Linked DNA regions of Homo sapiens. The protein of the gene in region 2 purifies or fractionates together with the protein of the main gene of each other region. This does not show direct contact. Each region holds a gene or a part of one and is shown on either strand. Other genes may lie near its edges.

Evidence for each region.
Region 1: the proteins of MIOS (region 2) and CEP43 purify together in Homo sapiens (affinity purification with mass spectrometry, with the first as the bait; one large-scale study listed by BioGRID). This does not show direct contact.

The regions. Positions count from the first base shown.
Region 1 is NC_000006.12:167,002,397-167,006,225, forward strand, and holds part of CEP43 (centrosomal protein 43), read left to right. Parts: intron 1-796; coding exon 797-851; intron 852-1,326; coding exon 1,327-1,415; intron 1,416-1,867; coding exon 1,868-2,005; intron 2,006-3,829. UniProt on the Homo sapiens protein: Required for anchoring microtubules to the centrosomes. Required for ciliation.
Region 2 is NC_000007.14:7,573,096-7,576,924, reverse strand, and holds part of MIOS (GATOR2 complex protein MIOS), read right to left. Parts: coding exon 3,156-3,829; intron 2,828-3,155; coding exon 2,729-2,827; intron 1-2,728. UniProt on the Homo sapiens protein: As a component of the GATOR2 complex, functions as an activator of the amino acid-sensing branch of the mTORC1 signaling pathway. The GATOR2 complex indirectly activates mTORC1 through the inhibition of the GATOR1 subcomplex.

The DNA.
Region 1 (3,829 bases), on a different chromosome or scaffold from region 2:
TCCAGTTTTTGAGTATTACAAATAAGGTTTCTGTGAACAGTCACATACAAGTCTTTGCTTGGATCTGTGATTTCTCTTGAGAAAATATGTAGAGGTGAAGTGACTAGGTCACATGCTAGGAATATTTGTGACTTTTAAGAAACACTACCAAATTGCTGTCCAAACTCGTTATGCCATTTTGCATTCCCATCAGCAGTGTATGAGGCTGCCACTGTAGCAGCAATTAATGTGGTCTTAAGGAAGCTTACCATGTGCTACCTACTGTAGCCTCTTCTCAGCAACAATCACAGGCTTGATGGTCTAGAAGTATTTTTTCCATACTTATTCAAATAAATGTATAATTACAAAAATAAGTTGGCCTATGGGCCGCATAAGATCATCTCACATTTCATGGATAAACTGGGAATTACAAGTGTATAATTAAATTCCTGTTCATAGTAAGTATGCTATAAATGGTAGATACCTGAGATGACAAAACTTTTATCAAACTTCATGTATTTGAAATAATAAACAGTTGTTGACATTTAATTGTATTTCACACAGGTATTTGAAAATATCTAGCTTCAAAAGCAGTTTATAAAACATTTAAAAATTAAAAATACAAATCTTCATATATGGTTTTGTTATATTAACTTTGAGAAATTACTAAATAGCACAAAGTAAGTCCTGTAGTAATTAACAGTTGTAGAATGGATTTTGTAAAACCATAATTTTATCAATGAAAACGTTAAACTTTATATTTTGTAGTTGTTTTTAGGGTAAACACATGACACTTAAATTTTTTTTTTTTTAACAGAACAAAACTCCTTTAGTTAATGAGAGCCTGAAAAAGTTTTTAAATACCAAAGACGGTAAGATGTTCAGTTTGTTCTTGTTTATCTATCTCTGAATTTTTGAATCTTGATACCATTTGGGAGAAATCAGGAATTTCAGGGCTTTTTTTTTGTCTTCAATTGTTATAGGTCCTCATTTTAAAATAATATTTTATTGTACAACAATCGTGTTGCTATTACATATTTTTGGATTTGGGATGTTGTTGCTTAAAGCCAGTTTTACTACAAAAAGCCAATATTAACCATTAAAAAGCGAAACACTGAAATCTATGAGATGATTGTCTTACAGTTAGTTACAGACTGATGATCCCAGTGAAAAAATCAGGAGATTGAGATTTTCATTACTTAATCATATTATTCAAAGAGGAAATTTGTAACTTAAAAAATTTAGAAACCTTTCTTCCATTAATTTAGTGTATCTATTTCATAATGTTAATTTAAAAAATTCAGTTTTTGAAGATTTGCTTACTTACCTTTTTCTTGATCTTTATAGGTCGTTTAGTGGCTAGTCTTGTTGCAGAATTTCTTCAGTTTTTTAACCTTGACTTTACTTTGGCTGTTTTTCAACCTGAAACTAGCACAGTAAGAATAATGATTTTTACATCTATCTTTTGAAACCTTTGATACAAATGAGTTAATATTAAGCTGAAAGTTAATAGAATTTGACAACTGATAGTTTTTTACATTTAGATTATTTTTGGTAGTTGATTATCTGTTTTTCTTAAAAGCCATATGAGCTTTCAGATAGCTGGCACCAGTGTTGCTGCTTTGTGTTACTTGAAAGCTTGCTAATAAAAGTGTTACTATAGAGTTAATTTTGATACGATGTTAGAGTGCACCTGTTAATGGAAACGTTGAAGGTAGAGGCTCTGTAAAAGAAATAGGCATAATTTTTTAAAATAGACATTTCATTCATTAGTAAGACAGTCTCTTTGAGTTTAAAGATGTCTTTAAACTCTGAAAATATCTTCTTTACTCCTTGAGAATAACTTCTGCTATTTTTTTGTGCACTTGTATTTTAACTTCTTTTCTAGCTGCAAGGTCTCGAAGGTCGAGAGAATTTAGCCCGAGATTTAGGTATAATTGAAGCAGAAGGTACTGTGGGTGGACCCTTATTATTAGAAGTGATCAGGCGCTGTCAACAGAAAGAAAAAGGGCCAACCACTGGGGAAGTAAGTAGAATTCTGTGTTATCTTTTTCTATTTTAATTATTGGCTGCTTAGTTTAGCCATGCAGATTAGTGCATATATAGTAAATTAAGGTTTTCATACTAGAAGATATTCCTTAAAAACAAAATGAGATGCATTCAGATTGTATCAATGCAAATTTTAATGAAAATTAGGAATGTGCTGACTGTGATTCTGTGGCATATCTGTTCTGGTTTTTGATCCTCAAGAGTGTTGGGTCATGAGCTAAACTGTCTGGAACAAATCCCAACTCCTCGTTGCCTCACTTGATCCTCCATTCATTCCATACTGTGTATGAAGTGGGCTCTACCAGGCCCTACCTTGGTGTTCTGAGGCTTCTCTGCATAAGCCAACAGAAGCACTCAACTTGCTATTATTTTTATTAAAACATCTTATTTAAATATAAAAGGGCTGATTTATAGGATAGTTAATAAATTTTTGGACTTAAAGGCCTCTTTAGGCTTAAAACTAAGCTGTTGATTTTGCTTTACGCTGTTTAGAAACAGTTCAAACTTACACTTTTTTGATCAGTAGTACTTTTCATACTCTTAACCTTTTTTTAGAAATTGTGCTAATGAGATTAATGATATAATTTTATTTTCATACATTAATTTTACATGAAGATACTCTGTTTTATAGATACAGGTAACATCTGTAACTGTTCCAGATATTTGATTAAATGTGAGCTTTTAGTCAGAAATTTATAGGTAAGAATGTGGAGGGCTGTATAGGTTTCCAGTTATTTTCTTTGGTGAGTCTCAGAGGATGTTTTCTATTAGAATTTTTGAAAATTGATAAAGCTTGCCTGAGTACTAATTATGTGTAAGGCATGGTAAATAGACTTTGTGGGTACTATAAGATAAAATATAAGAAACTTCTGTGTCTCTGAATAGCGCAGAGCTATTTAAGATAAAATGTGCTCAAATAAGGAAATTAACATTTAAATAACAGTTTAAGATTATGGAGGAATTGTCATTTAACACATTATTTCCAACCATATTATGAATAGTTTAGAGGAGGAAGCGATTGTCACATGCCAAAATTTTATTGAAGTCAATTTTAAAGTGAGAGTAGGATGTCAGTTGTGGGGCGAGGATTGGGAAGGGCTTTCCGAGAAGTTGGAACGGTGCCAGCCAAGCGTGGGAGCAGGAGAGCATAGCCAGATCCCAGGCTGGCTGGGAGTGAGGCGGCTCACCCAGAGCGCAGGTTGTCACTTCAGCTTGTGCATATAATTTCATTCCTTCATTTATCAATATCCAGCAAGCTTTTATTGTGCGCTTATTTGATAGATACTGTGCTGGGTACTGGGCAATCAAAAACAAACTAAAGAACCCAGTCTCCTGGGGCCAGCAGTCTGTAGGTCATGATGACCTCTCTTTATTGGCTTTCCCCTCTCGGCTTCTGTGGCCCTGAAGAACTCTCTTCTCTTTCTAACTGCCCTTTCATTTTCTTTTCTGTTTAGTAGTTGTGCTTTGGCTCACCTCATTGCAGTGGTGTTTATGCATATTTTTCTGTCTAGATTGATCTTTCTTCCTTAACATACCACTAGCATGGACTCTGGAACCAGGTTACTTGGGTGAAACCCCAGCTCTGCTACATTCTAGCTCTGTGAGCCTGCAGTCACTCAGCCTCCGTGTGCCCAGGTTCCTTATCTGCAACATGGAGATCACAGAAGTATCGCGCCTACAGGTCTGGAGGGGGTCTGAGGAAGCAAGATGTGTGAAGCTTTGAGCACAGTGCTTGGCACGGAGGACTCTGTGTGTTACTGTAGTAGGCATCAGTGGATTCAATTAACTGCGAATTGAAAAT
Region 2 (3,829 bases):
TTCCCAAACTAAATATATGTGTGCTACCTTTGACTTTTCCATCTTCTCCACCCCTTTATCTAATTAATCATTAAATTTTCTCCTATTCTCTAATGTATCCACATTTCTCTAGCTCCTCTGCTACTAACCTTGGTAAGGATAGCATCACGTCTTGCCTCCTTGCAGCAGGCTTCTATCTGATATCCCTACTATCAATCTTGATCCTTTTAAAACACAAATCTGTCACAAATCCATCTGTTTCCCCGTCTTACAAGATGAATCTCCCTAAATTCTTAACATGATTTCTAAGTCTTTCTTGAGTTAGCCCACTGCTTACCTTTCTAGCCTCCATTCTTTCCTCACTTCCTCTCTCATGCTCTGTTTCAGCCATAATAATGTGCTATGCTCTCTACCCTCTGGGTCCACTGCACATGCTGCTCCCTGTCTGGACCTTGTCTTTAACTGTACCTCCTCTGAGAAACCTCTAATCCCTGCAACCAGATTAGGAGTCCTTCCTGTAATTAACTGTCTGTTCTTCCCTATGTTATAACTGCCAGCTTACTTGTCTATATTCTAAACTAGAATATAAACTCCTCAAGAGCAGGGATGACATTGATCCTGCTCAATCTCCATGAGGGAAGAGATTTATGTATCTTCTTGAGAGTTATGTCTCTAGTTCCTAGGATAACTCCTGGCATATAGCATGCATGTAGGTAATAAATACTTGCTGAATGAATGAGCTTACTTCATATTGTAGTTGTAAAAATTAAAGTAACATGGGAAAAGCAACTAATTCATAGCAAGCACTTATATATATACTATTTGTTACCAAAATTAAAATTTAGCTGTATGCTCTAATAAACTTGTGTATTAGGTTACTGTGGACAAGATGGCTCAATGTGTTGACTTACCATGTGTTGATTATTAGAGATACAATTAGAGGAAAAGGTATGGCCAAATAAAACAGAAGACTGAAATCTAAGAGTGGCATATTTGACAGTATTTCTCTACTTTTCACCTTTGGGTAGTAGAAACAAAAATATCTATACCAAACAAAAAAAAAAAAGCTGAAAACCTAGCAATGAGAGAATGATGAATGAGGAAATCTTTCCAACAGTAGTGTTTCTTTAGTCTGGGTAGAGACTATTTTGACACAGGGGTGGGATACTCAGTTTGTCTCTAGTGCACCAGAAACATAAACATATTACATTTTCCCCTTTTGCTTTTCCTCAGATGCTGGCTTTTCCTTAAAATATATCAAAATACAAAAAACACAATAACCAACCTCTAAATAATTGAGTGCAGTGTGGCCTGATCTACTATATAGCTAAAACACTATAAATTCTATAAACTTGGTGTTTAATTCTTTGTAGCAATAGGCAATGGCTCTAAAATCTTGAACCATGGTACCAGGTTCATTTGTGGGAGTAAAACAGTATGTGTGCCCTTTTACCTATGTTAATAAAAACAGCAGCTTCTAACTAAACTTATTCATTTTACTATTTATAATAAAGGTTACTTTTTTTGGTGGAGGGCTAATACAAAAACAATAAAATCAAACTGATCAGTAAGTAGTCTACTGCATCTTTCAGTAAAGTGAACCAAAGTAATTTGAAAGACGTTAAAAAAACACTATAATGTAACAGTTTAATTAAAACACTTAACCTACTCTAAAATATTTTATTATTTTGTATTTTGTTTGTATGGTACTGATACAAGCTCCGTAAAAAATCAAATTGGATTTACTACTTCTATTACTGCTCTTTGACTAAATAATGTTAACTACTTTTCTAACAGCTTGACTTGGGCCCAAATTTGACTTACCAAAAGTTAGAGAACGAATCCTAGATCACAGAGATACAGGGTGAGCATCCCAAATCTGAAAACTGAAGTCCAAAAGGCTTCAAAATCTGAAACTTTCTAAGTGCTGAGATGATATTCAAAGGAAATGCTCATCGGAGCATTTTGGATTTCAGAATAGGGATGGTCAATCTCTAAGTATATAACGCAAATATTTCAAAATCTGAAAGTATCTGAAACATTTTTGGTCCCAAGCCATTTTGGATAAGGTATACTCAACCTGCAATTCTAATATAACCCATTATTCAATTCCAGTAAAAGAATAGGAACAACTGTTTAAAGCAGTCAGAAAAAAAAAAAAGTTTGGTTTTTGTCACTTTTATTCTTTAATAGTTTACCATACCAATTTTCAATCCTACATTAACTCACACGTTAATTAATTCATTCACTAATTAACCAAGGACTATATCAGGTATAATTCCTCCACGTTAGGCCATATTTCATATCATACTCCTTGCTGTTAGATGGCTCAATGAAAGTATTTGAGGAGCAAAATAAAAAGGGATCTCCTTCAATTAGAGATCTTTTTAGTTTTTAAGAAGCAAAATGTTGCGATAAAACCTGAACTAACAATCAGTAATCTGTAAATTGTCTAGTGTAAAACCTCTCAAAGTGGGTTTTCAAAAAAATAACATTGAATAAACGTGTGGATAGATTTAAGAAGATCAACATCACTTCAGAGAATTAAGACTCCCTGCAAAAAGGGTTTTGGATATAAATACAAGTATGCATTTAACTCAACAATACAATGAAATATCCAATCAGAAAACAAAAAAAATTATGTACATGATCCTGAAATAACTAGATAATTTCTGCCAAATGACAGGGGGCAAAATAAAAGTACAAAAGTTATAAACATATTGGAGAAAATGAAATAGAATTTTCTTACCCAACGATGACTTTACAATTGATTTAATTCCTGCATAAACCAATGATCCTTTGTTGCCTGGAGATTTCTGATCCATATCTTCTGTGTATTGCTTCATAAGTATTTAAATGCATAGGAAATACTAGTGATGCATGACAATATATTTCAAAGCTAAATTTATTTTGATTTGGAGCCAATTCATAATAAGTATCAGTGTAAATAAGGTGGTTCGACTCTATTGCAGAGATACACTTTTCTTCCTCCTACACAATCTACAAAGCAGTATTTCAAGTTCGAAAGTTTAGAACAATTTTACTTTATAATGTTAGTATTATGTAACTTGTATTTGTATATAAAACATTGAGCATATTTACAGACTGACCTTTTGGCAAACTTCAAGAACATTTCTACCTGATTCACCTCACAAAATTCACAATGAAAAGGATATAGTGCAGAGTATACCAGAGTGACTTGAGCTGTGGATCTTCATTTCCAGCTAAAATGTGGTTCCTCCACACCTGCTCTGTATCAAGTCCATACCTTGATAAAGCCCGAAGACGCATCTTCGTTGCTATATCTTTTTCTAAAGAATTATCATTTTCTTCTTCCGTACATTCATATAAATGACGACCACAAGCCCACATTAAAGATGTAATTGGGCTCCAGGCAAGAGATATCCTTTCAAAAACAGTGAAGTCTGACATTGTTCGGTTGGGAGTTACAACTATCATTCGATTTTGACTTGTTGGATGCCACGCAAAGGAAGCAATGTAATTGTCACAAGGTTGCACACTTCTTTCAATTATTGTGGGTTCAGTTTCATCCCCAATGGGAGTGGGTGTATGCTGCATATCATACAATCTAATAATATTACTATCCCTTGTTAAAGTGGCAAGTAGACCAGTCCTAGTGGGACACCATGCTACTTTTGTTAAGGGTTTTGGTTGCTCAGTCAATGTCAAAACTGGCTTCTCAAATTTTCTAAGATCCCATATTGCAACCTGACCTTCATAGAAGGAAGCAACACGATCGTGGAAATATGGGTCTACCGTCACACCCTGAACAGCTTTTGTATTTACGAACATCTTTTGGCTTGTATTCCGAAGATCAAATATAGCTAGG